Linked DNA regions of Homo sapiens. The protein of the gene in region 2 purifies or fractionates together with the protein of the main gene of each other region. This does not show direct contact. Each region holds a gene or a part of one and is shown on either strand. Other genes may lie near its edges. The genes, in order: RNF25, MINDY3, ZC3HC1 and RPUSD3.

Region 1 (6,062 bases), on a different chromosome or scaffold from region 2:
TATACAGACAGGAAAAAAAGAGGACGTAGACTAGCTACGATAGCCCAGATACTATTAGGTACTTTATGTAAACAAATCACCTTTTATCCTCACAATAACCCTAGAGAGTAGGTGTTATTATCTATATGTGACAGACAGGATAACTTAAGCTTACAGAGAGGTCACGTCCCAGATTGCATAGCTTGTAAGTGATTGGTACCTGTTAACTAACTCCGAGGCTGCTGGCTCTTCCATTACAACACAGCCTTTATACCACCCTAAATATGTTGTGTTGAGGTTGCTATCTCCTTTAAGAAGGCTTAGGGTGACTGGTGTTAAAACTGTATGTAGACAGTAGCCAAGGCACTGGGATCCACACTGGACAGTGACGTAGGGAAAGGTTGGAGTAATATTGGTAACGTTAATGCTAATGAATGAGTGCCATATCTCTAGACCAGAGATTCAGCCACTAAGGGGAATGAAACTTAAACAGGGAGTCAGGAAACCTGGCTCTGGGCCTAGTTCTACCTATGTTAAGCCTTGGTTAGTCATTTTACTTCTCTAGAATCCACTTCTTCATCTGTTGGCAGAAATGATGCCTAAAATTCTGATTTCCATGCCTTCTATTTGGCCAGTTGACAACTTAAGGTAACATATTCCTTGTTTTTAAGGAGTTTAGCAGGAGAATGCATTCTGGTAGATTGCCATTTTTCTACAAAGCCTGCCTTTATTGGCCTTAGCAGGCTTCCACAGGGAGAGCTGTAATGGTAAGTTAGTCTACTCCTGTCTCTCTAGGGTCCTTCCCTCTGAAGTTGAAGTATTGGAGTCCATCTATCTAGATGAACTACAGGTGATTAAAGGAAATGGCAGGTATGTATTCAACCAGTGGTGGGCAGGAGTCCCCCTAGTAATGAGGAGAGGTTCTATGCTGAATTTGGGTCTTAAGACATTGTGAGCCTTGATTCAGAGATAATATTTCTCTTGTGTAGACAAAAGCTATTCCTTTAATCCTACCCCAAAAGAAAGAGTCCAATGTGTACTTCCTTTGCCCACTTCACTGTCTCAGCCCCATCCTCCCCAGCCCCCAAGCCCCTACCCAGTCACATCTGCGTGTCCACTTGATCCACCTGCAGAACTTCACCATGGGAGATCTACATCACTTTGCATCCTGCCACTGCAGAGGACCAGGATTCACAGTATGTCTGCTTCACTCTGGTGCTTCAGGTCCCAGCAGAGGTGAAGCCCCTACTGTGTGGCAGCAAAGGGAGGAAGGGGAGAGTCCCTGGGGTGGACCGCTTCAGCAGTAACTTGTTATTTGCCCCCACTAGTATCCCCATGAGGTGCCACAGATCTCTATCCGAAATCCCCGAGGACTTTCAGATGAACAGATCCACACGTAAGTTGAACCTGTCAGAACAGGGAAAACTCAGCTACAGCTTTGCCCGGTGACAGAAATGGGCAGGTCTAATATTTGGTTTGCCCTCTTCCTCCAGGATCTTACAGGTGCTGGGCCACGTGGCCAAGGCTGGGCTGGGCACTGCCATGCTGTATGAACTCATTGAGGTAAGAGGTGCGCTAGTCTGAGATATGTTCTTTCCTTCAAGCTAGAGCAGTTTCTAGCTGTAAAAGGGAAACCATGGGCCTAGAATCTTAAACGGATCTGGAGTCATTAGGTAAGGCCTAAATTAATCCAGAGAAATGAGACTCTTCTATTTGAAAAACTTCCCAAAAGACAGTTCAGTAGCTTCTCCAAGTTGCCTATGCCAGCATCTTGACAGAAAATGACTTTTCCTCTTCACCTTGAATTTTTCTTGCATCAGTTTCAGTATATGTCTTGTTCTCTTGGCACTGGCAACTGAAAGTGGCAAAAGATACGCATCTTGCTTGGGGGCGTCTTAGCCATAAATGAACATTTGAAGGCTAGACTGCCATTGGACCTGACTAGAAAAAGTCATGGTTGGCCAGGCACGGTGGCGGGCATTTGTAATCCCAGTTACTTGGGAGGCTGAGGAAGGAGAATCGCTTGAACCCGGGAGGCGGAGATTGCAGGGAGCCAAGATCATGCACTGCACTCCAGCCTGGGCAACAGAGTGAGACTCCATCTCAAAAAAAAAAAAAAGAAAAAGTCATGGTTCCTTTACTGAAAGAGCTTATACACTGCTTGATGAAACAACCCACATGAAGCAACACCTGAAGCTCCAATATACACAGAAAACTTTTATTGTTTGAGATTAAAAATATAAAATTAAGTACAGTTTTATTTTCCCCTAGTTTGTTTATTTATTAATTTTAATTTTTTTTTTTTTTTTGAGACAGTCTTAGTCTGTCACCCAGGCTGGAGTGCAGTGGTGTGATCTCAGCTCACTGCAACCTCCGCCTCCCAGGTTCAAGTGATTCTCCTGCCTCAGCCTCCCAGATAGCTAGGATCACAGGCATGTGCCACCACACCCAGCTAATTTTATATTTTTAGTAGAGATGGGGTTTCTCCATGTTGGCCAGGCTGGTCTTGAACTCCTGACCTCAGGTTATCCACCTGCCTCAGCCTCCCAAAGTGCTGGGATTATAGGCATGAGCCACCACGCCCAGCCTCTCTTAGTTTAAATTTTTAAGAAAAATGTTCAGAATAGAATGAAGGTGGGTGGCTGAGAGTCAAAGAGAGTGGGTTTGATAGGCCACCGTAGCAGTCCTAGGTCAGGCCTCCACAATGCAGCCTTGGACTTTGTGGAATTCCAGAGTACACTATTAGCTATTCAAATAACAATTCAAATGCATAGTTCACAGCCCAACTCAATGCCTTGTGAATTCTCTGTCCATTTGGGTTGTCCATGCCTTGTCATGCTTTCTGAAAGCTGACTTAGAACAAACACATTGCCCCATGGGGGAGTGATATTGAAGGGGGCTAATCAAGAAAGGCCTCCCAGAAGATAAATTTTAATTGAACATTTTTTTTCTCAAGGTGTATTATTTTCATCTCCAAGATATATTAAAAGTGACTTAATGAAAGGAAAAACAATTAGGTTGAATTTTGAAACCAGGAAGATCAAATTTTGGGGGAGGGGCAGAGATGTGGAGAAGGATTGATTCCCAGCAGAGGGAGCGTCACCAAGCCAGAAATGCATAAACACAAGGTAACAAACTGGCCTGCTAGGAGCCAAGTCTAGCCAGTCACTCCTAGGAGTAGTAGACAGGCCTTGCTCACCGTTCTTCCCCCTACCCCCGTTTAATCAGTGTCTTCTCTCCTCAGAAAGGGAAGGAAATTCTCACAGATAACAACATCCCTCATGGCCAGTGTGTCATCTGCCTCTATGGTTTCCAGGTGGGTTTCTCTCTTGGGACCTGGCATTCTGTTTGGGACCAGCAGATGAGGGCTGTGAGAGAGCTCTGACTTAGTGCCCTACATCTGCCTTCCCTCTAGGAGAAGGAGGCCTTTACCAAAACACCCTGTTACCACTACTTCCACTGCCACTGCCTTGCTCGGTACATCCAGCACATGGAGCAAGAGCTGAAGGCACAAGGACAGGAGCAGGAACAGGAACGGCAGCATGCTACAACCAAACAGGTAGACCTCACTGCACCTGCACACTCATCTGACACCCTTAGGCACAGCCTTTCACAAACTTTTCCATCTCTCCACTCCAGTGGCTCTTCACTTTTTCAGGGTCATAGATACCCTTGAGATTAATGAACTCTTACCTCTGTCCAGAATAAAGGGCATCCTTTTTTTTTTTTTTTGAGATGGAGTCTCACTCTGCCACCCAGGCTGGAGTGCAGTAGCACAATCTTGGCTCACTGCAACCTCCGCCTCCTGGGTTCAAGCAATCCTTCTGCCTCAGCCTCCCGAGTAGCTGGGATTATAGGTGCGAGCCACCACGCCCAGCTGATTTTTGTATTTTCAGTAGAGACGGGGTTTCACCATGTTGGCCAGGCTGGTCTCAAACTCATGACCTCAAGTGATCCCGCCCGCCTCGGCCTCCCAAAGTGCTGGGATTACAGGCGCGAGCCACCGTGCCTGGCCAGGGCATCCTTATATACACTTACATATTGCATGCAGTTTCGGGGGGTTCCCAGATCTCTAGTTAGACAACCCGTGCTCTGTCCCAACTCACTGCTGAACCGGTGTCCCTGTGCCCTTTAGTCCCAGCCCTCTGCAGATTAGGTTGGCTGATGGGTCAGCACCAGGGGGCATCCTGGGCTGTGACACAGGCATATGATTTTTCTCTTTTTTAGAAGGCAGTCGGTGTGCAGTGTCCAGTGTGCAGAGAGCCCCTCGTGTATGATCTTGCCTCACTGAAAGCAGCCCCTGAACCCCAACAGCCCATGGTAAGGAGACTTTTTTCCAATCTGAGCCAGGAGTAATGGTATTTTCTAAAGAGTAAGGAATGGCATCTTGTCTGTGTCAAATGGGATCTCTGAAATTGGGCTTGAACTGCCTAGGACCTCTCTGCAAAGCCACATCCCCCACTGGCGGGAGCCTAAGACTCTGGGAGCCCAGACCTGAGGGGCAAAACCAGTGCAGATCTCCTGAGGCAGCCTGGGAGGAGTAGAGGTTTGAGTCAGCCTTCTGCTGTTCATTATTTCCTCTCTGCCATTCTTCCTTCCAGGAGCTGTACCAGCCCAGTGCAGAGAGCTTGCGCCAGCAAGAAGAACGCAAGCGGCTCTACCAGAGGCAGCAGGAGCGGGGGGGAATCATTGACCTTGAGGCTGAGCGAAACCGATACTTCATCAGCCTTCAGCAGGTGAGGGAAGGGCTTCCCAGTTGTCCTGTAATGCCACCAACCTTTCTACAAACCCCAATCAGCCATGGCCCCAGAGTGAGCTTTGTTCTAACCAGGAAGATGATAGGCTGATCGTGGTCAGCCCAGATAGTAGGAGAGGGGCCTGTAGTTCCCCACCTTGAGGAACTGCATCTCCCTCACTGCATCTTGTCACTTATTTCTAGCCTCCTGCCCCTGCGGAACCTGAGTCAGCTGTAGATGTCTCCAAAGGATCCCAACCACCCAGCACCCTTGCAGCAGAACTATCCACCTCACCAGCCGTCCAATCCACTTTGCCACCTCCTCTGCCTGTGGCGACCCAGCACATATGTGAGAAGATTCCAGGGACCAGGTCAAATCAGCAAAGGTTGGGCGAAACCCAGAAAGCTATGCTAGATCCCCCCAAGCCCAGTCGAGGTCCCTGGCGACAGCCCGAACGGAGGCACCCAAAGGGAGGGGAGTGCCACGCCCCTAAAGGTACCCGTGACACCCAGGAACTGCCACCTCCTGAGGGGCCCCTCAAGGAGCCCATGGACCTAAAGCCAGAACCCCATAGCCAAGGAGTTGAAGGTCCTCCACAAGAGAAGGGGCCTGGCAGCTGGCAGGGGCCCCCACCCCGCAGGACTCGGGACTGTGTTCGCTGGGAGCGCTCTAAAGGCCGGACACCCGGTTCTTCCTACCCTCGCCTGCCTCGGGGCCAGGGAGCATACCGGCCTGGTACTCGGAGGGAGTCCCTGGGCCTGGAATCTAAGGATGGTTCCTAGCAGGACTTGGTGGGGGGAACAGGGAATTGGGGATGGGAGGGAGGCAATAAAGATATTTGGCCTTCTTTGGCTTTCTTTGCTTAGCAGCGCCTAGCCTGTGAGGAATGGCTCTTTTTCTCAATTCCTAATAAGATTGGGGTGTGGCAGAGCAGCCCCCAACTTTGCTCTGAAGTCTGTTCTCCGAAGAGCTGGGTAAAGAGGGTCTGACATCTCATCAGCTAGTATAGTGAGTTTCAGGGAAAACTAGTGGGATGTCAGCATGTAAGCAGAGTCCTTAGGACCCACCGTTAACAACTCATTGTGTACACACCCATGCCTGTCCATTATTTATATACATAGAATGCCTTTAGGTAGAGGAATTTAGTTTCCTGTTTTGTGTCTCATCTCTTTATCTTAGGCTATGCCCCATCATTTGTATATGTGGTTGCCTGACTGACCCCTGTAGGCACCTGTGATTGCAGCCCGTCTTACTCAAGTACCAATCCAGTGATGAAGGGAGATGAGAGAGCAGAGTAGTGTGGCAGATGTTTATTGAGCTAGAGGAGGAGAGCTGAGCTGAGCCCAG
Region 2 (7,619 bases):
CAAACTTCTCTGGTTTTCCCCAGTTCAATGCAGAAATAATTCATACACCATCTTTGCTCCTTTATAATGTTTTGCCTAAATCATTAATAAAACTAACATAAGAATAGTATTTTTCAATGCTTGTAATTCTTTCGTGCCTAATGTTCCCTATTAAATATCACAATCGCTGTATGATACAATTATTAATAAGATCATTTTATGAATGTGGTAACTGAGCCTGAAAGAGAGTATTTATTCATTCTATCACAATCAAGAACATTAAGGAATGAGCTTTTTGTAGATCATGGCACCATTCACTGATATATGAAACATTGAGAGTAAAGCAGGGTTTGTGGGAAGAGTCATGTTTAATTTGGCACATATTAAGTTTGAGGTGCCTATGACACATCCAAGTGTGTAAATATTATATGGTTACTTTATATAGCTAGTCTTGTGTTAATGTACAAGTTGGAATTTTATCTTCTCATTTCATAATGTTAGCACAAGTGCTAAAATGGCAAATGACCTCTTTTATTCTATGTCTTAAAGAATAATGCCATAATTATTTCTCTATTCCATACACGTTTCCGATATTCTTTTTCTCCCCATTATCCCCATACATTTCAAGTTAAAGACAGCCACTTTTTAGAATCATAGAAGTGTACAGGACCTGCAGTGAATATGACCTTAAGAAGTAACCTATATTTAGTTCTCTTATTTTACAGATGAAGAAAGCAAGGTACGGCTAGTTAAATGATTCACCCAACATCACACTTACTGCCCATATGGGGACTAACATTCAGATTTTCTAATTCCATTTCAAGAGACGATTTCATTAGACCCCTGATTCCCTAACAGTATTTTGCAGAACATAAATTATATAAGAAGTTCAGTGAATGAAATGATTCAAATGTGTCTGTTAACATTAAACACAATCCCCACTCCTGGAGAGTTGCAGTGAATGACCTGTTTAAATTTATTTAACCCAGCATTTAATGACACTTCCCCTTTACCACCATGTATTAATGTCAGTAGGAGATGCAATGGGGAGTGCTACACTATGCCACCCTTGAATATGATGTTGGTGAGTCTGAAAGGGACTTGTTTGCTCAGCTGGACAAGTATTATCCTGCTGAGATAAGGTTAGGATGATGCAGAAGGAAGTAGTTTCATTTGCTTTGGTAGATTTATGCTGCTATTGGAAGGCAGAGGACATACAAATGAAAAAGTTTTAGTAATAAATGAGTATGGGATTGTTTTAATGACCCACCTAAATGTTATTAATCTTATGACAGGGTGAGTTTTTGAAATATTTGATTTCTTCTAGGTAAGGAGTAATGTAAATACACTAAATTAGGAGTCCAGGGTTTCCAACTGGAGAATTGTACTTTTCATGTTAGTTGCTAGGAACTAGGCAATAAAGTTGTTGTGCTTTTATCTGGCAAAAAAGTTTGAGGAAAGACAGGAAAATAATTAAACAGAGTTAGAGTTTAATGCTGAGTAATTAATTTTGTTGCCTGAAGTAGTAAAGATGGATAAAAAGAATTCATTATAATGGAAATCTCAGCCCAGTTTTATGGAAGCACCCTGACTTGAATTTGAAAGAAACAGAAGTATTATTAATAAAACTTACATATAAATAGGAAGTGAAAGATTATTAATGCAACCTATATACACCTCAGTGATACAAGTTTAATCGAAACCATAGACAGTCCTGAGAAAAACAATATGCTAAAATATGAAGTGTTATAAATACATGAAAGAACATTTACATAATTTTCCAAGTCATTATAACAAGAGAAAGGCATTTTCATCCAGCACCAGGTATAGATGCAAAACGTGATTCACTTAAATATTTATTTATAGATAATTACTGAATAAGAACAATTTTGATGAATATTAATTTCTATTTAAATGTTATACCTAATGAATAATTAAGCCAATAATTTAAAAGTAAAATATTCCTTGTTAAAGATATGTCCTGCTAATTAAAAAATTTAAAAGATTACACATAAAAATTATAATGTGGGCCAGATGTGGTGGCTCACGCCTGTAATCCCAGCACTTTGGGAGGCTGAGGTGGGTGGATCACCTGAGGTCAGGAGTCGAAGACCAGCTTGGCCAACATGGTGAAACCCCATCTCACTAAAAATACAAAAATTAGCCGGGCATGGTGGCGGGTGCCTGTAATCCCAGCTACTCAGGAGGCTGAGGCAGGAGAATCACTTGAAACTGGAAGGTGGAGGTTGCAGTGAGCCAAGATGGTGACACTGCACTCCAGCCTGGGCAAAAGAGCGAAACTCCATCTCAAAAAAAAAAAAAAATATAATGTGGAAGTGGAAAGGACATTCATATAAATGTCTATCCAGGATTTTGCCAGCATCACTGTAGCTGGAAACTAAGAAAAATCATAGATCAAAAAATTTCTCGTTTAAAAAAATACAGTTTGAAAGTACAATTTTTTGTTTTTTCATAACAAAGTAATCAAACTTATAACTACTATCTATATTAATGTAAAGGAAACAAATGTAGTGTTATATACACTACACCATTAATATTTACATACATTAATGGAGAAAGTCAAATGTGGAAACACTTCTGAACTTAGAAGTCTGCCAGTTATGAGCTCTATGTACATAGACCCTTCTGTGTCTTTCAGGAAGTGGAAGAATTACGTAAATTGTAATCAGCATGCGAATATTAGATATTTAACTGGAGCAGTCAGTACTACTTCCCCGATCTCTCACTTGCTGAGAGATAATGAATTCTTTATTTCCAGTAAAGGCAAGTTTTGTTCCTTGGAATCGTAATTATTGAGATCCAGTGATGTTCAAGGCCCCATGCTAGAATTATGAATAGGCAGCTCTTTGCTTCCATAAATTTATATCCCAAGAGAAAAGCAAATAACTCTTTGCAAATACAATGATGATAGGAATTGTCATAAGCAAGTTACACATAAGGTACTATGAAGCCTCAGAAATTATAATTATTACTTTCAATTGTAATGACTGGAGAAAGTTTGGCATGCACACTCTGACATGAAGGATAGGTAAGATTTGATTTGCAAAAACAAGGCAAGGGATATTCTAAAGGGAATAAAGATCAAAAGGAATGCTATGGCTCTACTACAGGCACTTTGGGCAAGTCCCTGTAATTACAGTAAAGGGTACTGAAGAAATAAAATTAAATTAATTAAAATAAAATTAGAAATAACGTATAAATAGGAAAAAATAGCTAGTAATAAAGCATAAATTAACAAAACCTTATTTGCAATCTAAAAGATTTTAAATTAAGGGTTAATTTTAATTAGCCAAATGCAAGGGTATTCTACAATGAAACTGCATGTTTTTGAAATTAGAGAACATAACGTATTATACTAAAATACAACTGGCTAGAATTTATGGGTAAAAAAGTCAGAACTACTGTTGCATCAAATTCCCACAAAATGGCTTCTTGAGGTAAAAAAAATACCCACTGTTGCATAAATGCCTTCCATGTGCTAGGAAGTACACCAAATCCTTTGTATGTGTTACTTTTTCCATTTATTCCTTACAATATATGAAATGTATGCAATCTCCCTTTTAGAAAGAAAAAAGCCTAGGTAGATAGTAGGTAACTTGCTAGTAAGTGCAAAAGGTAGGAATATGGGCCAGTATGACCCACAGCTTGGCCTCTTAACTATTGCATTACTGCATCCCAAAGTAATATGGTTTCCAAGGAGTACAGAAACCTTACAGAACCAAAATAAAAGCATGTATTTTTTTTTAAATCAGATTTTGCCCTTTCGTTTTAAATTCAAAGCTCGGGCAATACAAGCCCTCTTTTTTTAAGCAGCACAAACATAAGTTTTCACATGAACTCAATTTAACTGCTAGTTAATGAGTAAAACCTAAACTTTAGTCCAGGTGTTGCCCACACACTCTGCAGTGTCAAAAACTGGAGATGAAAATGCTGTAACATTTACAAACAGGTTGCTCTGAATTTGTTTCCCTACAAATACCTTGTAATTCTGCGTTGCAGCTGGTGGAAGCATTTCTAATGCACATTATGCCACATTCTTTGCCATGTTTTTAGGTAATAGTTGGTCTGACTTTGATTTATTGAAGTACAGAGGCGGACAGCCTCCAGCTTATGAGAAGCGCCCTACAAAGGCACGGATGTTACCGCACTGTGACTCAACTATTGCCTTATAGTTCTAGTTTTGCAAAATTAATATTGAAAAATACAAGCAATGGGCATATGTTCTAATTCCTAGTGCCTGGGCCTCAGAGCCTCCAGCTTAGCCCAGAGCAGTGCGTAGAGGAAGAAGGTATTCCTGGAGTTTAGAAACACGCCGACGCCCCTTCCCAATACAAAAACTACCACCCCACCAAAGGGTCCCAGACAGTTCAGAAAGGTCAGAAGCTACTTCCACCGCTTTCCGTGCCTGTTTCCGCCTCCAATTTCACTTCCGGGGAGGGGACTTCCGGGCCCTCAGCCTTAAGGGGCGGGAGTTAAAGAGGAGTCGGAAGTGGCACCAGCACTTCCGGTACGGAAAACTCGCTGCTGCCCCAACCTGGCTTGACAGGCTTGGTCTCTGCAAGTGGCTCTCAGCCCCTTCTTCTTTCCTGCCTCACCTTCCAATTCGTTTGCCGCCGCCGTCCCGCAGCTGCTGTTTCCGGAGTTGCCCCTTCCCCATGTTCCGGGGCAGGAGTCCGCAAAGCGAAGATCCGCCCGCCGGTTCCTCATCATGTCCGAACTGACTAAAGAGCTGATGGAGCTGGTGTGGGGCACCAAGAGCAGCCCCGGTCTCTCGGACACCATTTTCTGCCGCTGGACGCAAGGTACCCTGGCGGGGCTCTCACACTTGCAGCCGCTGCTTCTTTTGCCCTGCGAGAGTCCGCCTGTGACGCCTCTCGCTCCAGCCCCTCGCGTGCCCCGCTCTCTGCCCCAGTCGCCGTGCTCAGCGCTGAAGCTGGACTTTCTAGACACGCCCTGCCTTGCCTTGGTGGGGAGAGTTTGAGTAGGAGAATGGTTACAGCTGCCACTAAATACCCGCAGCGCTCTTTCCATCCTCCGGGCTGCCCTTCGGCTGGGGAGGAGGAGAGGGTGGCCCCTTGCTGGGTTGCAGGGCGTGACACGGAAGATGCGCCCCGTGCCCCGGTGTCACTTTCTCAAGGGGTGCTGTGGCCTTCCGCATCTTTACCCCCTAACAGAGCTGTCTATTGGTGGTGGTTGGTCTATTTTTGGTGAGAAGGAGGGACGTCCAAGGGAAAGTCCAAGTGGCTAATTCCAAAAAGCAGTTTTTTGTTTGTATTGTCATTATGTGGTTAGGCGTGGTAGTCTGTGTATAAACACTGTTATTTGCTAAAAAGTGTACTCTTGGCCCAAAGTATCCCCGTTTTTTATATGGTTTATTATCTGTCACGGTTAAAAAAGGAATATGGATCATAGTACTTCCTCGGCCGGTATGCTTGTAACCCAGACAGGACTTTTACTTACATGAAGAGTCTTAGTACAAATAATAATGAAATAAAATAAGCATTTATTGAATTCTTGCACTGTAACAGGCTGGGCGCTTTATACTAGTAACTATCCCTAATTCTTAAGTTTGGATAGGCAAACAACTGACACATTCCTAAAGGTGACTTAGGAAAGATGATGATGAGGTTAAAACATAACCTTGAGTCAGAAGGATCAATAATTTATGTATGTAAAACACTATTATTATTAAAACATCTATTTAGGGAACACCTGTTCCCGAAATAGATTGGGCGGAATTTTGGCATAGTAAATATAAACCCCTATTTCAAAACGTGTATTTTGTAACAAAAATTCAGGATTTACGTAATCTCTCCCTCCCTCCCACATGTTTGTTTTAAGAGCTGGTAAAATTACAATTACGATGTATTGTTAAGTTGGGATATTTAGTCCCTCACTGTTGCTTTGCAGGCGAAAAAAATTAGTTGTAAAGGTAAATGACTGGGCCAAAGTTGCACAAATCGATAGAACTGGGAGTGGATTCCAGGTCTCTCGATTCCTAATATACCTCTGTTTTCATTATCTTCCTTTGAGTTCCCAAACCCTACATGTAATGACTTGGGCTCTTTTTTTTCACATTCAATTATGTCAGTTACCTAATCTTGGGCTTCTTAGAGGGAGATTTTATTTTAACACTTCCCACTTTGACTTACTTATTCTAATAGTAAGCAGCTCTAAAATACTGTGAAAGACTAAGAAAAAATTTACTTCCATTGTAATCAGTTAACATTTATTAAACATTTTACAAAGTAGAATAAGATAATATTCAGCCCTGTTTATATTTATACTGTAATGCAAATACAAGGAAGATTCAGGGTGGCAGTTCTAGTAATGGTTAAGAGCACAGTCTGGAATAGATGTACTTGGTTCAGGTTCATGTGATTTAGCTTATTTAAGCCTCAGTTTCCTTCTCTGTAAAGTACAGATAATAGACCTTACAGAGTTATTGTGAGGATTAGAGGCCATGTAAATAATTTAGGTGCTTAGCACACTATCTGACGTATAGTGAACACTCAGTATATGGTAGCTGTTTTTATATTATTTTAAAAAGTGTTTAATTGTAGACTATGCCAAATTCACTCTTTGGCTTTTTCCTGACAATTACAATAAGTTGTTTATTTGATGGCTAATCATTATTCTAAATAGAACTTTATAATGACTTATTAGAACGCTCTGCCACCTTTAATCATGCAGAAATTCTTTAACAGGATTAGTTCCATCAGTACCATTTCAAAATAAAGGATTTCTTTCTTTTTTTCGTTTACAGGGTGCAGTTAGTTATATTTTGGATATGTAGCTCTTCAAGGCCTTACACTGATTAAGATTTTAAGGCAACCAAACATATATTTTTGAAGTTATCGCCTCTGAATCAGAGGGGTCCTGTTACTGGTTTTGATATGTTAACTGTTGTATTCATTTGTTTGTTCTTTGAGGCCATTGCTAAATATTGCTGTGGCAGTCCTTTGGGATTGTGGGAACAGGCACAAGACACTGCTTTGCTGCATTACTAATGTGACATCAACTCTGGCTTTATTTCATAGTCTGTGATCGTGTCTTCAGTTGACAACTGCAGTCTCATTAGTTTTCTGGAAGCAAGATACAGATGTAAGATGTTTGGCATGAATATTTATACAATTATGTCTAGAGATATTTCATCTATAAAATTATATTGATTGATCAAGTTAAATTCTTTTGATATGGTTGTTAAAACAATAAGCTGCAGGAGTGGCACATAGTTGTTTTTAATTGGCTTGACATTTTTAGATAATTCTCTTCTACAAATCCCTGTTCGTTTTAAAAAATGCGGGGTGTTTTTTTTCTTCTTCTTTTTTTGGGCAGTTTTAATTTTAAAGGCAATAAGCCATGTAATTTAAGGGCTTAAAGTTGGCAGGGTTTTATTTTAACGTGAAAATTTATTCTTCTCTCTGCTTTCCTCCTGCTCAATTGCCTATAGTACTTTTTAAAGAATAGCATATAATTTTCACTTCCTTAGCTCATTAACACTATTTATCCTCCCCCCTTCCCACAAACTACACCAGTATTCCAAGCTCTTACAGTTGAGAGTCAGTAGGGTGGGAGGGAAGACAAACAGTAAATATAACGTAGCATAAATTACACAT
Region 3 (7,611 bases), on a different chromosome or scaffold from region 2:
GTCTCGGCCTCCCAAAATGCTGGGATTACAGGCGTGAGCCACCATGCCTGGCCAAAGGCCTCTTTTTTTTTTTTTTTTGAGACGGAGTCTCATGCTGTGGCCCAGGCTGGAGTGCAGTGGCACAATCTTAGCTCACTGCAACCCCACCTCCCAGGTTCAAGTGATTCACCTGCCTCAGCCTCCAAAGCAGCTGGGATTACAGGTGCGTGCCACCACACTCAGCTAATTTTTTTTTTTTTTGTATTTTTAATAGAGACAGGGTTTCATCATGTTGGCCAGGCTGGTCTCGAATTTCTGACCTCAAGTGATCCACCCACCTCAGCCTCCCAAAGTGCTGGGATTAAAGAGGTGAGCCACTGCACCCAGCGCTAGGATAGATAATTTTTGAAGGACCTTTGCCGTAAATAAAAGCAGAGAAGGTGTTTTCTTGTTTTCTGAAATAGAGTCTTGCTCTGTTGCCCAGGCTGGAGTGTGGAGTTCAGCGGCACCACCTCGTCTCACCGCAACCTCCACCTCCTGGATTCAAGCGATTCTCATGCCTCAGCCTCCCAAGTAGGTGGGACTACAGGTGCATGCCACCACGCCCAGCTAATTTTTATATTTTTAGTAGAGACAGGGTTTCGCCATTTTGGCCAGGCTGGTCTTGAACTCCTGACCTCAGGTGATCTGCCCCCCTTGGCCTCCCAAAGTGCTGGAATTACAGGCATAAGCCAGTGCACCTGGCCTGTTTTGCATGTTTTTAAGATGGGAGAAGTAATATCTTGCTGCTAATGGAAATGTGCAGTGGAGGGGAGAATTGGTGGACAATGTTCTTGAGTAGGCAAGGGGAATTAGATCCAATGTGTAAGTTTGGCCTTAGATAGGCACATAGATTACAGCAGGGCTTCTCAACCTGTGCACATATTGGGTGAGATAATTTTTTGTTGTGGCGAGGCTGTTCTGGATGTTGTAAAATGCTTAGCAACATTCCTGGCCTCTATCACCACTCCAACCAAAAATGTCTCCTGACATTGCCAAGTGTCCTGTGGCAGGCAATATCACACTCATTTGAGAACCACTGATCAATAGTAACAGGAGGGAAGGTAAAGTACGGTTAGAGGATGATGAGAACACCATTCATCATGCGAAATAAAAACACAAAGCCGGCCGGGCACAGTGGCTCATGCCTGTAATCCCAACACTTTGGGAGGCTGAGGCAGGCAAATCACGAGGTCAGGAGATTGAGACCATCCTGGCTAACACAGTGAAACCCCGTCTCTACTAAAAAAATACAAAAAATTAGCCATGCGTGGTGGCGGGTGCCTGTAGTCCCAGCTACTCAGGAGGCTGAGGCCACAGAATGGGGTGAACCCGGGAGGCGGAGCTTACAGTGAGCCGAGATGCGCCACTGCACTCCAGCCTGGGCGACAGAGGAAGGCTCCGTCTCAAAAAAAAAAAAAAAAAAAAACCACAAAGCCAAATTTCTTGCTTACTATAAACAGTAAGAGCCATGCAGGTGAGGCACAGTCTTCAAGCAGACCAGACTACTAATCTATCAGACTTTGAGAAAGTGGGGAGTTCAGAGATTGGCAAACTTTCAAAGGTGTGTGTTAGCATCATTTGTAGAAGTGATAACTTGGGTGAAACTATTGTTGAGTGGCTGGCACTCAGAGGAGTGCTTATTGAAGTGAGTCTTTGTGATTGGCTGAATCAAGAAGTTGTCATTCATTGGGTTTACAAAAACACATTCACTGTGATGAGTAATCATGGGTCAATTGAACTTAAAACTGGCTCTGATTGCTGGTTGTTACCATGGCTAACTGTACAGTCAGTATTTTCCTAGGAGTGTGTCATTAGCAGAAAGGGAGGATGGATAAGTGGAAGTATTGAAGGTGTTTGAGGAGAGAGGTATATAATAGTCATCTATGAAGGTGGGTGCAGTGGCTCACACCTGTAATCCTAACACTTTGGGAGGACGAGGTGGGCAGATCACTTGAGGTCAGGAGTTCGAGACCAGCCTGGTGAATGTGGTGAAACCCTGTCTCTACTAAAAATATAAAAATTAGCCAGGTGGCCAGGCATGGTGGCTCACGCCTGTAATCCCAGCACTTTGGGAGGCCAAGGTGGGCGGATCACCTGAGGTCAGGAATTCAAGACCAGCCTGGCCAACATGGTAAAACCCCGTCTCTACTAAAAATATGACAAATTAGCCAAGCATGGTGGCAGGTGCCTGTAATCCTAGCTACTCAGGAGGCTGAGGAAGGAGAATCGCTTGAACCCAGGAGGCAGAGGTTGCAATGAGCCGAGATTGTGCCACTGCACTCCAGCAGGCAGCAGAGGGAGACTCCGTCTGCAAAAAAATCAAAATAAAAATAAAAAATAAATTTAAAAAAATAAAAAATAAAAATAAGTCATCTATGAAAAGTGGGATGAGAAGTGGACTAGATAAAGGTAGTATAATTACTGGGCAGAATTAAGGTCCCACTTGAAGTCAAGAATATAAAGAGACAAGTTTGTCATTTCTCTTTAGCCATATTTAGTTGTATGGGTACAGAAGCAATAATAGAGAACTTACTTCAACTGTGATTGAGGTTTTGTCAAGTAAGTACTATTAAGCAAGAGAGGTTCAAGGAAATTCAAAGGGTATTCAAGAACATGTATTTTTTAGCTTATTTATTTTGCTTTTTATTATGATATTGTCAAACATACTTAATAGCAGAAAGAATAATATAATGAATCCCACAATTCTATCATCCAAGTCCGACAGTTTAAAATTTTGCAATATTTTTTCATCTATTCCTCCACATGTTTTCCTGGATAACTTCAAAGCAAATTCCAAACATCATATCAATTCACCTATAAACACTTCAAGATGCATTTCTAATAAAGAAGGGCTTTTAAGAACCATAACTACAATGCCATTATTACATATAGTGAAATCAACAATGTTTCCTTCATATTAACTAAGTCTCAACCCATGTTCAAATTTTGCAAAGGGATGATGATAACAATTAGTAATGAATTTAAGCTGGCTAAGAAAAGAAGAAACAAGGGTGGTGGTGGAGTTAGGAAGAGCAGAAAGGTAATTGGATCAATAGGTTGCAGGTCCTGCTGCTGGGAACACTGATAGAGTTAGGAGCCCACAGGTAGGGTGCTGGAAGGGTAGGAGGTGATCCCACTTTCCTCTTTGCCCATTGTTTAGTCACATCAGTCTTCCAACCTGGGGTGTTGGAAGATTCTGTACAGATTTCTTCCCTTCAATCTCATCCGTCTCAGCTCCAGTACCTGATTTTTCTCAGGAGAATGTGCAAACTAAATTAGATTCTCCTATTATAACCTTGGTACATCCTTGGAGCACTTGTAATCATAATTTTAAAACTATAGGAAAATTTGACATCTAACTCCACCAAGATCTACAGCTTCTTTGCTCACGACTGTCATTGCTAGTGCCTAGAGACTATCAATAGGATGCTTTCGGCCGGGCGCGGTGGCTCATGCCTGTAATCCCAACACTTTGGGAGGCCGAGGCGGGCGGATCACCTGAGGTCAGGAGTTCAAGGCTAGCCTGACCAACATGGTGAAATCCCGTCCCTACTAAAAATACAAAAAAAAAAAAAAAAAATTGCTGGGCGTGTTGGCGAATGCCTGTAATCCCAGCTGCTCGGAAGGCTGACGTAGGAGAATCGCTTGAACCCGGGAGGCAGAGGTTGCAGTGAGCCGAGATCGCGCCATTGCACTGCAGCCTGAGCAACAAGAGCGAAACTCCATCTCAAAAAAAATAAATAGGACGTTTTCAATAAATATTTGTTGGACTAAGGAAGGAGTATCAATAGTGTCAAATGCCACAGACTTCTAAATCCATCCATAACACGGTTTCCAACAAGGATTCTAAATTATTTGCTCTCCAATGAGGGTCACCATTTCCTCGCTTGTAGAAAGGTGCAACTTAGGAGGGTCGTATGAGTTAATTTATTTTTATTTTTATTTTTTTTGAGTCGGAGTTTTGCTCTTGTCGCCCAGGCTGGAGTGCAGTGGCGCAATCTCGGCTCACTGCAACCTCCGCCTCCCGGGTTCAAGCGATTCTCCTACCTCAGCCTCCCTAGTAGCTGGGATTACAGGCGCCCGCCAGCAAGTCCAGCTAATTTTTGTATTTTTGGTAGAGATGGGGTTTCACCATGTTGGCCAGGCTGGTCTCGAACTCCTGACCTCAGGCGATCCGCCCACCTCGGCCTCCCAAACCGCTGGGATTACAGGCATGAGCCACGGCGCCCGGCCGTATTAGTTAATATTACTTGAAAATTAAGTTGAGCCCCTCATCCCTGCTGAATTTGGACTGACAGCGTTCTAAAAATCTCTTATCAACCTAAATATGCTAGTTGATAAAGGAAACGATTAATCAAGATTGTCCTAAACAGTACAGCCCTCCTTAAGCTCGCTCTAAGGTTCTAAAATGATGAGAAAAGGCGTGGGCCCCGCGGTTAGACTTTCCCAGCCAGGCTGCCTCAAGAGGCGGATATTAACCTCCCAGGACGGAAGTTCCGGAGCCTTCAAACTCTCGGGGAAGCAACTCGGCAGCGGACCAAGATGGCGGCGCCCTGTGAGGGACAAGCGTTTGCCGTAGGGGTTGAAAAGAATTGGGGTGCAGTAGTTCGCTCCCCAGAAGGGACCCCCCAGAAAATCCGGCAGCTGATAGATGAGGGGATTGCCCCGGAAGAGGGAGGCGTGGACGCGTGAGTTCACGAGTTAACCCTGGGTCCGGCGTTGGAAGATTGAAGAAGGCTTGGGGAAGGGGTGGCGGGTTGGGGGAGGTTCCCCTCGGTCGGCGACTCGGGCAGTGGGGATGGCTTCTTAGAATCTGAAAGAAACTCTGGTTACTATGTTTGATCGGCTTTGATCTTCCCCTCGGGGTGTACCAGATTCCCAACCGCAGCCGAAATTTTGTCATCGGACATTATTTTTGGAAGTAAAGAGGACCGTTAACTGAATGAGTTCACTTGACTTCTCTTAATTGGGGATTCTTAACCTTTTTTTGTGCCGTGGACCCCTTTGGCTCTCTGGAGAAGCTTATTAACTCTCAGAATATTTTTAAATGCTTAAAGTAAATTACATAGGATTATAAAGGAAACCAGTTAGATTGGAATGTAGTTATCAAGATGGTAAAAGGAAAAAGTTACGCAGTAACAATGCTTTTTATTAAAGAGTCCATAATATCTAGTAGTATGTGTTGTCAACCATAATTTTGAAGTAGTGATGAGCACAAAGGTATTTGAAGACATGCAACCACCATAATGTGGGAACATTATTTCCATTGGTGACAAATTAGCAGGTACTGCTAATACTACTATGGTGTTTTTACCTTCATTCATAATTGAAGAAAATGCTAAATCTTGTCATTTAGAGAGAAATAAATGTCATTTTTACCCATCCAAGTTTATGGATGCTGTGAATTTTTTTTGGCCTAGAACCACACCCGCTTGAGGCTCTCTATGAATCTCTGAGAGTCTTAGAGTAAGTTTATTTCTTTTGAGCTATAATCGTTGATGTAATCCTATTTTTATTAAAATAATGCCTGTCGCCGGGCGCGGTGGCTCACGCCTATAATCCCAGCACTTTGAGGAGGCTGAAGCGGGCAGATCACGAGGTCAGGAGATCAAGACCATCCTGGCTAACACGGTGAAACCCCATCTCTACTAAAAATACAAAAAATTAGCCGGGCGTGGTGGCCCGCGCCTGTAGTCCCAGCTACTCGGGAGGCTGAGGCAGGAGAATTGGTTGAACCTGGGAGGCGGAGGTTGCAGTGAGCCGAGATCGCGTCACTGCACTCCAGCCTGAGTGACAGAGTGAGACTCCGTCTCTAAATAAATAAATAAATGCTTGTCTTTCAGCAATTCCCCAGGCACTGTTGAAATGCCTTCCACTGAAAATGAGAGAATTGCTTTGCTGAGTTTTTTTCTCCCTGATTTTTTTTTCATGAAATCTCCCGAAGATCTTTGATTCGAATTTTCTAATTGGTTCTTTTTTTTTTGGAAGGAGTGGGTATGAAAGGTCCCTCCAGGTAGAAATATCAAAATTGTTTTTTCTGCTGTTAAGAGTCGAATTTCTGCCAGGCGCTGTGGCTCACGCCTGTAATCCCAGCACTTTGGGAGGCTGAGGTGGGCCAATCACAAAGTCAGGAGTTACAGACCAGCCTGACCAACATGGTGAAACCCCGTCTGTCCTAAAGATACAAAAAATTAGCCGGGCCCACGCCTGGTGGTACGCGCCTGTAATCCCAGCTACTGGGGAGGCCGAGGCAGGAGAATTGCTTGAACCTGGGAGGTGGAGGTTGCAGTGAGCCGAGATCGCACCGTTGCACTCCAGCCTGGGCAACAGAGCGAGACTCCATCTCAAAAAAAAAAAAAGTCGAATTTCTGAAGAGATTCAAATTGTATAATGCATACTTGAAGTCTTGAGTCTTATTTTCTGTCTACTAAAGTTATGCCAAATACTTGTGGAGAACAGTGAGTGAGTGAGGAGAATAGTTTGCTAGGATTAGTGGAGCCCTGTAGAGGTAGAAATTGAAGTTTAGATATGGGTAAACTGTAAAGAGTTTTGAATGCCAGACTGAAAAATTTGGATTTTATTTAGTAAGTATTATAAAACCATTGAAAATAATAAGCTGAGGAATGACATGAGTAAAATGATTTTTAGGAAGCTTAAAATCCAGCGTTGGTGTGATTTATGATACGATGTGTAGAGAAGCTAGATAACATTTAAGCAGAGGGTACTGTGAAAGGTTTACCAACAGTTTTGCCACTTTATATTAGGAAGGACACGTCTGCCACATCCCAGTCAGTTAATGGATCACCCCAAGCGGAACAACCTTCATTGGAATCTACAAGCAAAGAAGCCTTCTTTAGCAGAGTGGAAACATTTTCTATATCCTTTTTTAGTTCATGTGAATTGCACTTTCTGCCTGCTTCTAGAATTCCTCCAAGGTATTACACCACTTACTGTGATGCTTTAAACTTAAGAATAAAACCTTGGTAAGAAATTATATAGGAAAGTCAGCATCCTAATATGTTATCACTCAGAGGGACAGTTGAGGTTATCTAACCTTTTCTTTTTACAGAAGAAAAAACTAAGAGCCTGAGAAAAGAAGAAATAATAACTAATACTTGTATATAGTATGTTTTTGTATATATTATCACATTCGATCTTGACCTTAAACCTATGAAAATAAGCATTATTATTATACTTGTTTTACAGAAGAGGAAACAGTTTGGGGCAGGTTATATGACTTGCCCAAGATGAACCTGTTAGCAAATGGCAGATCCAGGATTATAATCTAATGTTTTTTAGATTATTAGAGACTACACTACTATAATGTCTCTTTCTAGATTTTCCTTTGTGTATTAGCTACCTATTGCTGCATAGCAAATTGCCCCAAAACTTAGTGATCTTAAAACAACAAACAGTTTTTATTTCATAATTTCTGTGGATCAGGAATCCAGGCATGGCTTAGCTGAGTCCTCTGGCTCAGGGTCTCTCACAGACTGCAATTAAGGTTGGTCAGGGCACTGTCATTTCAAGGCTCAACTAGGAAAATTGTCTCAAAAGAAAAATAAAATAAAATAAAACAAAACAAAACAA
Region 4 (8,136 bases), on a different chromosome or scaffold from region 2:
GCCCATTTAAATTTGGTGCCAGGAACTGAGGCAATCGCAGGAGTTGCTGATGGCCTCACAAATCTTAACCCTGTCACTTGGGTTAAGACGATTGGAAGTACTACGATTATAAATTTCATATTAATCCTTGTGTGCCTGTTTTGTCTGTTGTTCAAGTCTGCAGGTGTACCCAACAGCTCTGAAGAGACAGCGACCATCAAGAACGGGCCATGATGATGATGGCAGTTTTGTCGAAAAGAAAAGGGGGAAATGTGGGGAAAAGAGAGATCAGATTGTTACTGTGTCGTGTAGAAATAAGTAGACATAGGAGACTCCATTTTGCTCTGTACTAAGAAAAATTATTCTGCCTTGAGATGCTGTTAATCTATAACCTTACCCCCAACCCCGTGCTCTCTGAAACATGTGCTGTGTCCACTCAGGGTTAAATGGATTAAGGGCGGTGCAAGATGTGCTTTGTTCAACAGATGCTTGAAGGCAGCATGCTTGTTAAGAATCATCACCACTCCCTAATCTCAAGTACCCAGGGACACAAACACTGCGGAAGGCCGCAGGGTCCTCTGCCTGGGAAAGCCAGGTATTGTCCAAGGTTTCTCCCCATGTGATAGTCTGAAATATGGCCTCGTGGGAAGGGAAAGACCTGACCGTCCCCCAGCCCGACACCTGTAAAGGGTCTGTGCTGAGGAGGATTAGTAAAAGAGGAAGGCATGCCTCTTTGCAGTTGAGACAAGAGGAAGGCATCTGTCTCCTGCCCGTCCCCGGGCAATGGAATGTCCCCTGGGCAATGGAATGTCTCGGTATAAAACCCGATTGTATGTTCCATCTACTGAGATAGGGGAAAACCGCCTTAGGGCTGGAGGTGGGACATGCGGGCAACAATACTGCTCTGTAAGGCATTGAGATGTTTTATGTGTATGCATATCTAAAGCACAGCACTTAATTCTTTACCTTGTCCATGATGCAGAGACCTTTGTTCACGTGTTTATCTGCTGACCTTCTCTCCACTATTATCCTATGACCCTGCCACATCCCCCTCTCCGAGAAACACCCAAGAATGATCAATAAATACTAAGGGAACTCAGAGGCTGGCGGGATCCTCCATATGCTGAACGCTGGTCCCCTGGGCCCCCTTATTTCTTTCTCTATACTTTGTCTCTGTGTCTTTTTCTTTTCCAAGTCTCTCGTTCCACCTAACAAGAAACACCCACAGGTGTGGAGGGACAACCCACCCCTTCAGAAAGTAATAGTTTATTTCATTTATTTATATTTTTTCTCTCCTTTTCACAGGTGTTGAACAGTTTATTTTACTAATGCATGTGGTTTACCCCAACACATCCCAAATATCATGATTCCAACATGTGGTGTTGGCTGCATTTTCAGAGCTTGCAGTCATACGTCTTAGTCTGTTGGGGCTGCTGTGACAAAATACTGTAAATTGGGTCTCTCTAACAACAGCAATATAATGTTCACAGTTCTGGAGGCTGGCAGTCCAAGATCAGCTGGCATACAGGGTGTCTGGTGAGGGCCCACTTTCTGGGTCATGCCTGCCATCTTCCCACTGTGGTCACATGGCGGAAGGGGCGAGGGAGCTCTCTGGGGCCTCTTGTATAAGGGCGCTAATCCCAACCACAAGGGCCCCACCCTCATGACCCCATCACCTCCCAAAGATGCCACCTCCAGATGCCATCACCTTGGGGATGAGGTGTCAACACATGAGTTTGGGGGGACACAGACATTTGTTCATGTGGTAAGTGGCTCCAATGCTGGCCTGCCTCTGAGGCCTGGCCTCCTGGTGGAGGGCCGTGCAGGCACAGGGCTCTCGTGCACTGGGGTCCCCGGGGACACCTCCCACCCCTGCCCAGGCTCTACTTGGGAGTTGGCAGGTGCTGAGTCCTCTTGTGACCTTCTTAAGAAAGTCCCTCCTGGCCAGGTTCAGTGGCTCATGACAGTAATCCCAGCACTTTAGGAGGCCGAGTCGGGTGGATAACTTGAGGCCAGGAGTTCAAGACCAGCTTGGTCAACATGGTGAACCCCTTTCTCTACTGAAAATACAAAACTTAGCAGGGTGTGGTGGCAGGCGCCTGTAATCTCTGTTACTTGGGAGGCTGCAGCTAGAGAATCGCTTCAACCCAGAAGGCAGAGGTTGTAGCGAGCCGAGATCACGCCATTGTACTCCAGCCTGGGCAACAGAGCAAGACTCTGTCTCAAAAAAAAAAAAAGAAAGTCCCTTCTCTCAGAGCTCAGGGCTGATAACAGAGCAAGAAATGCATCCTCGGGGAGAGAGAGCAGCCTGGCCTGGCCTGGCCTGGGAAGGCTGGCTTCAACCATCAAAGACAGCTCTCACACCTCAGGCCCCAGGGCCTGGGGCTTGATCCCTGCATCCCCTCTTCCGCTGGCTGAGCTCTGTGCCTCAAGAGTGAGACTCCACCCTCCCAGCACTCCCTCACAAGCAGACCGGGCCCCATCCTGCCTCTGCTGACCCCCACTCCCCTGGGGCCTGCTCTCTGGGTCAGGACCCGCATGGAAACCAGGGGCAGGCCATCCCAACACCTCCCAGAGGCTGCCGGCAGCTCAGGCTGGTTTTCCTGTGACCAGTGCAAGTGTTCTTTTCAGTTATCTGACTTCCTTCCGGGGCATTCTGAGCCCACCCATAGCTTTTGGCATGCCTTTAAGGGACACAAAGAACCACAACAGCCACTGTGTCCTCATCTGTAAGGCAGGGCCCCAACCCACCCTGCCTTCCTCATAGGGGTGTGTAATGCTGGATGAAAAAGCCTATTAGAAAGTGTCCGTCAAAGGCCGGGCACGGTGGCTCACACCTGTAATCCCAACACTTTGGGAGGCTGAGGCAGGTGGATCACCTGAGGTCGGGAGTTTGAGACCAGCCTGGTCAACATGGTGAAACCCCATCTCTACTAAAAAATACAAAAAATTAGGCAGGTATGATGGTGCATGCCTGTAGTATCAGCTACTTGGGAGGCTGGGGCAGGAGAATTGCTTGAACCCAGGAGGCAGAGGTTGCAGTGAGCCAAGATCGTGCCACTGAACTCCAGCCCGGGTGACAGAGTGAGACTCCATCTCGAAGGAAAAAAAAAAAGAAGTGTCTGTCAAAGGCCCCGTGCGGCCTTTAATCCCAGCACTCTGGGAGGCCGAAGTAGGTGGGTGAATCCCTTAAACCCAGGAGTTTGATTTTTTAAAAATTATTTTGTTATTTTTATTTTCTTATCTTGAGCCCAGGAGTTTGAGACCAGCCTGGGCAACATCGTGAGACCCCATATCTTTAAAAAAAAAAAAAAAAAAAAAAAAAGCTAGGTATGGTGGTGCACACCTGTAGTCCCAGCTATTCAGGAGACTGAAGTGGGAGGATCGTTTGAGCCTGGGAGGTTGAGGCTGCAGTGAGCTGTGATTGTGCCACTGCACTCCAGCCTGGATGACAGAGCAAGCAAAAAAACACATTAGTGGCCGGGCACAGTGGCTCACGTCTGTAATCCTAGCACTTTGGGAGGCCAAGGCGGGCGGATTGCCTGAGCTCAGGAGTTCGAGACCAGCCTGGGCGACATGGTGAAACCCCGTCACTAAAATACAAAAAATTAGCCGGGTGTGGTGGCGGGCACCGCACCTGTAATTCCAGCTACTCAGGAGGCAAAGGCAGGGGAATCGCTTGAACCCGGGAGGTGGAAGTTGCAGTGAGTCGAGATCGGGCCACTGCACTCTAGCCTGGGTGACAGAGCGAGACTCTGTCTCCAAAAAACAAAAACCAAAACACATTAGGAAAATGTTCACACCAAACTCAAAGTGGAGACTGGGGAGGGAGTGAAAACTGGAAGCACGCAGTAAAGGGGAATTTACTTTTATCCCTTTCATTTCTTAAACAAGAAAAACAGGAAACCTATACATATATATATTGTTTCACAATGACTAATTCTGATGGTAGGAATGTGGGCAGTCATTATATTATTCTTTTTTTTCTGTGTTCTTCTACTTTCTTTTTCTTTTTTCTTTTTTTTTTTTTTTTGAGACGGAGTCTCGCTCGTCGCCCAGGCTGGAGTGCAGTGGCACGATCTCGGCTCACTGCAAACTCCGCCTCCCGGGTTCACGCCATTCTCCTGCCTCAGCCTCCCGAGTAGCTGGGACTACAGGCGCCCGCCACCACGCCCGGCTAATTTTTTTGTATTTTTGGTGGAGACGTGGTTTCACCGTGTTAGCCAGGATGGTCTCGATCTCCTGACTTCGAGGGGCCACAGGACTAGTAGAGCCAAGAGTTGAGGGTCCGGGTGGGGTGATCCGGCCGTCAGAAATGCAAAAGCCTGGAAAGACATCTCCAAAGGCCAATCTCAGGTTGGACAATCGTGAGCTGGGGAAGCTGCAAACACTGTGACCTCCGGAATAACCGCTGGTAATCAGTTACCTCTAACCCTTAGCAGAATTCAGGTCCCTCTACTACTCCTAACCTGGTGGCCTTTCATTAACTCTATGAAGCCAGTTTAGTTCGGGGGAAGGGCAATTATCATTTAGACTACGAACTAATTTCTCCCAAAGTTAGCTTGGCCCAAGCCCAGGAATGACCAAGGACCGTTTAGAGGTTAAAGGCAAGCTGCGGGTTGGTTAGATCAGATCTCTTTCGCTGTCATAATTTTGTAATATAATTTTTGCAAAGGCGGCTTCAGGTTTTTTGCTAAGACAGGTTTTTTGATCAGATCAAATTCTTCTGCTACAGCGCTCTCCCTAAAAGCATAGGAAGGCATTTCTGCATTTCCTTCCTGGGCGGAGGAAAAGCCCCGCCTCCTCAGGCTCTGAGTCCCGCCCGGTCACCATTCCGATTGACACTCCAGCTGACCAATCAGCGCGCTGGCTGGAGCGCGGGTCTGCCCCTCTGGACGCACATGCGCGCTGTCCTGGCTCGGGAGATGGACGGCCGCCGTGTTTTGGGCCGGTTCTGGAGTGGCTGGCGGCGGGGCCTGGGTGTCCGCCCAGTGCCCGAGGACGCAGGCTTTGGCACCGAAGCCCGGTGATTAAGTACCCCCTCTCTCATGCGGGACGGAGGCTAGGGCAGGGGGAAGGCACGTGCGGGATCTGGATCAGGTAGATGTTACCCGAAAACAGCCCCGTTGGCCTCTCTGAGCCTCGGTGCCCTCCGCTGTAGAATGGGACCGGTCGTACCTGAATTTTCGAGGTCAGCCCAGACATTGTGAGGCATTTGTCAGAGGCCGCAGGATTTGGGAAGAGGCGTCCGGAGATAGGAATGGGTGGCACCTCGGGATGGAATGACTCCCATTGCTTCTCCCTCCTTGTCCAGGCATCAGAGGCAACCCCGCGGCTCCTGCCAACGGTCGGGGCCCCTCGGGGACCAGCCCTTCGCGGGGCTGCTGCCAAAAAACCTCAGTCGGGAGGAGCTGGTTGATGCGCTGCGGGCAGCCGTGGTGGACCGGAAAGGTGAGGGGTGAGAGGCACGGCCGCACAAGGACCGGGAGGGGACTGCCTCGGCGTGCAGTTGGGCTCTCCATTGAAGCCACGGGATCAGCCCTGCTTCTGCCTCCCACTAGCAGCATGAGCTGGGACAAGCCACCTAATTTGCACCCTCTCCCCGCTTTTAACCCTACTGCCATGATGCAGTAGGGTTAAGAGTGGGGAGAAGATGCAAATAACTACCGAGCCTTGCACATAGCCGGCGCTCAGTTACGGGAGTTGCTATACTAGATTATTGTTTATTGGCCGCGGTGGCTCACGCCTGTAATCCCGGCACTTTAGGGTGCTGACGCGGGCGGATCACCTGAGGTCAGGAGTTCGAGACTAGCCTGGCCAACATGGTGAAACCCCGTCTCTACTAAAAACACAAAAATTAGCCAGGTGTGGCGGCGTCCGCCTGTAATCCCAGCTACTCGGGAGGCTGAGGCAGGAGAGTCACTTGAACCCGGATAGCAGAGGTTGCAGTGAGCCGACATCGTGCTACTGCGCTCCAGCCTGGGATGACAGAGCAAGACTCAGTCTAAATAAATAAATAAATAAATAATGATTATTTATCGACGGACAAAACACAGGCTTTGGAGTCAGACATACCTAGGCTCTGTGATCAGCTTGCTGTGCGGCTTTAGGAAAATAACTGAATTTCTCTGAACCCCACTCTCTATTCAGTGATTTATTCCTTTTCTCAACTATTTCTTGAACATATGCTATGTTCCAGGCACTGTTCTAGGCAGGCTATACAGTGCTGAAAAAGATAGATATGGTTTCTGCTCTCAGGGGAGAAATGGATTTCTCTCTAACGGGAGAAATGGATGTCAGAAAATAAATGAACAAGTTACTAGTGGTAAGTGCTATGCATAAACTAAAACAGGGTGTTATGATGGTGAGGAACTGCAGGAGGAAGGCAGACATTAGATTGGAGATTCAGACCTCTCCGTGATGTGACATTTGAGCCAAGATGATAGGGAGCCAGACCTGGGAAATTTGGGGACAGGAAACAGCAAGTGCCGAGGCTCTGAGGTGGCAGAGGAACAGAAAGAAGTTGAATTTGGTGTGGGGTAGTTAACTCATGTCTGAGAGTCATGATGGGGACATGTGCTAAGATGCGTGAGAAAGTGCTCTGGAAACTCTTTAGTGCTGCATAAAGGGTTACCGTTGCTTTTGCTGATGTTCGTGTGATGTATGTTTCAGGACCTCTAGTGACGTTGAACAAGCCACAGGGTCTACCAGTGACAGGTATGGGCCGGGGATGTGGGAAGGGAATGCAGCGGAAGGGGGTTTCGTGACTGAGGGAGGGAAAAGTGAAGGCATGAAGCTTTGGCCTCTTGTAATTTTTCTTTCTTACTTTCCAGGAAAACCAGGAGAGCTGACGTTGTTCTCAGTGCTGCCAGAGCTGAGCCAGTCCCTAGGGCTCAGGGAGCAGGAGCTTCAGGTTGTCCGAGCATCTGGGAAGTAAGTGGTAGGGGTGACAGGAAGCTAGGAGTACAGGCATCCATCTGTGGTGGGGAAACAGCTGCTTGGGGATAAGCTGAGACATTTTCCATGGGAAGGTTTGAGATCATAGAGGTGGATACAAGTACTGTGAAGAAGAGGAAGCCGATGGCTCTGGGTTCAAATCCTCAAGTACAAATGGTGTGATACCAGGCAAAGCATGACACCTCCCTGACGCTGGGCACAGTGACTCACACCTGTAATCCCAACACTTCTGGAGGCCAAGGCAAGAGGATCACTTGAGCCCAGGAGTTCGAGACCAGCCTGGGCAAAATAGACCCCATCTCTGGAAAAACAACAACAAAACTTTCCGCGTGGTGGCTCATGCCTATAATCAATAGGACTTTGGGAGGCCGAGGTGGGAGGATTGCTTGAGTCCAGAAGTTCAAGACCAGCCTGGGCAACATGGCAAAACCCTATCTTTACTTAAAAAACAAAATAAAACACACACACACACACACACAAAAACCTAGCTGGGCAGAGCAGCACATGCCTGTAGTGCTCGGGTGGCTGAGATGGGAGAATCACCTGAGCTCAGAAGATGGCAGCTGCAATAAGCTGAGATCCCGCCACTGTACGCAAGCCTAAACAACCTGAATGAGACCCCGTCTCAAAAAAACAAAACAAAACAAATACCCTCCCTGAGCTTCAGTTCCCCTAATGGTAAAATAGAGAAAATAATACCTATGCTCAGTGTGCAGTCATTTCTCCATGACGGTACTCGTGGCAGGCATTGCTAGTCGATCCATGATACTCTTTCCTCTAACTGCCATCAATTAAAGATGGTACTTGAGATGAAATATTTCTGCAGTTCCACAAACTCATGAGCTTTTTTGTAGAGAACTTATTTAAGAGCTAATATGTACAGAATTTCTAGTAGAATTCTGGCACATGGTAGACAATCGTTACGACATTTGGCTCTGAGTTCCCTGGGGGCCGGGGCAAAATGAGAAACACATTAAGCTACATAGTCTTGTTATCAAAGAAGGGGAAACCTTACTTGTTTCTCAGGAGTTGGTCTAGGTTATAGTCCTGGTGTTAGTGTTTGGCCTGAAGCAGGTCAGTGTTCCTAAGAGTTTCCTTTTTAGTGGGCGAGTTCAAGGGACTTTAACTTGTGTGATTTGTCTGCTTATTCCAGAGAAAGCTCTGGGCTTGTACTCCTCTCCAGCTGTCCCCAGACAGCTA

What was found.
Region 1: the proteins of MINDY3 (region 2) and RNF25 purify together in Homo sapiens (affinity purification with mass spectrometry; 3 studies listed by BioGRID and IntAct, with this or other methods). This does not show direct contact.
Region 3: the proteins of MINDY3 (region 2) and ZC3HC1 purify together in Homo sapiens (affinity purification with mass spectrometry; 3 studies listed by BioGRID and IntAct, with this or other methods). This does not show direct contact.
Region 4: the proteins of MINDY3 (region 2) and RPUSD3 purify together in Homo sapiens (affinity purification with mass spectrometry; 3 studies listed by BioGRID and IntAct, with this or other methods). This does not show direct contact.

Annotation. Positions count from the first base shown.
Region 1 is NC_000002.12:218,663,392-218,669,453, reverse strand, and holds the end of RNF25 (E3 ubiquitin-protein ligase RNF25), read left to right. Parts: intron 1-774; coding exon 775-849; intron 850-1,112; coding exon 1,113-1,215; intron 1,216-1,307; coding exon 1,308-1,375; intron 1,376-1,472; coding exon 1,473-1,542; intron 1,543-3,223; coding exon 3,224-3,295; intron 3,296-3,394; coding exon 3,395-3,538; intron 3,539-4,206; coding exon 4,207-4,299; intron 4,300-4,580; coding exon 4,581-4,715; intron 4,716-4,918; coding exon 4,919-5,497; 3' UTR 5,498-5,562; downstream 5,563-6,062. UniProt on the Homo sapiens protein: E3 ubiquitin-protein ligase that plays a key role in the RNF14-RNF25 translation quality control pathway, a pathway that takes place when a ribosome has stalled during translation, and which promotes ubiquitination and degradation of translation factors on stalled ribosomes.
Region 2 is NC_000010.11:15,857,389-15,865,007, reverse strand, and holds the start of MINDY3 (ubiquitin carboxyl-terminal hydrolase MINDY-3), read left to right. Parts: upstream 1-4,500; 5' UTR 4,501-4,708; coding exon 4,709-4,802; intron 4,803-6,207; exon of another isoform or gene 6,208-7,104; intron 7,105-7,316; exon of another isoform or gene 7,317-7,619. UniProt on the Homo sapiens protein: Hydrolase that can remove 'Lys-48'-linked conjugated ubiquitin from proteins.
Region 3 is NC_000007.14:130,048,319-130,055,929, reverse strand, and holds the start of ZC3HC1 (zinc finger C3HC-type protein 1), read left to right. Parts: upstream 1-4,555; 5' UTR 4,556-4,563; coding exon 4,564-4,709; intron 4,710-5,441; coding exon of another isoform or gene 5,442-5,487; intron 5,488-6,785; coding exon 6,786-6,897; coding exon of another isoform or gene 6,898-6,956; intron 6,957-7,611. UniProt on the Homo sapiens protein: Required for proper positioning of a substantial amount of TPR at the nuclear basket (NB) through interaction with TPR.
Region 4 is NC_000003.12:9,840,759-9,848,894, reverse strand, and holds the start of RPUSD3 (mitochondrial mRNA pseudouridine synthase RPUSD3), read left to right. Parts: upstream 1-4,886; 5' UTR 4,887-4,904; coding exon 4,905-5,005; exon of another isoform or gene 5,006-5,141; coding exon of another isoform or gene 5,142-5,170; intron 5,171-5,293; coding exon 5,294-5,430; intron 5,431-6,651; coding exon 6,652-6,696; intron 6,697-6,812; coding exon 6,813-6,912; intron 6,913-8,089; coding exon 8,090-8,136. UniProt on the Homo sapiens protein: Catalyzes uridine to pseudouridine isomerization (pseudouridylation) of specific mitochondrial mRNAs (mt-mRNAs), a post-transcriptional modification necessary for their translation.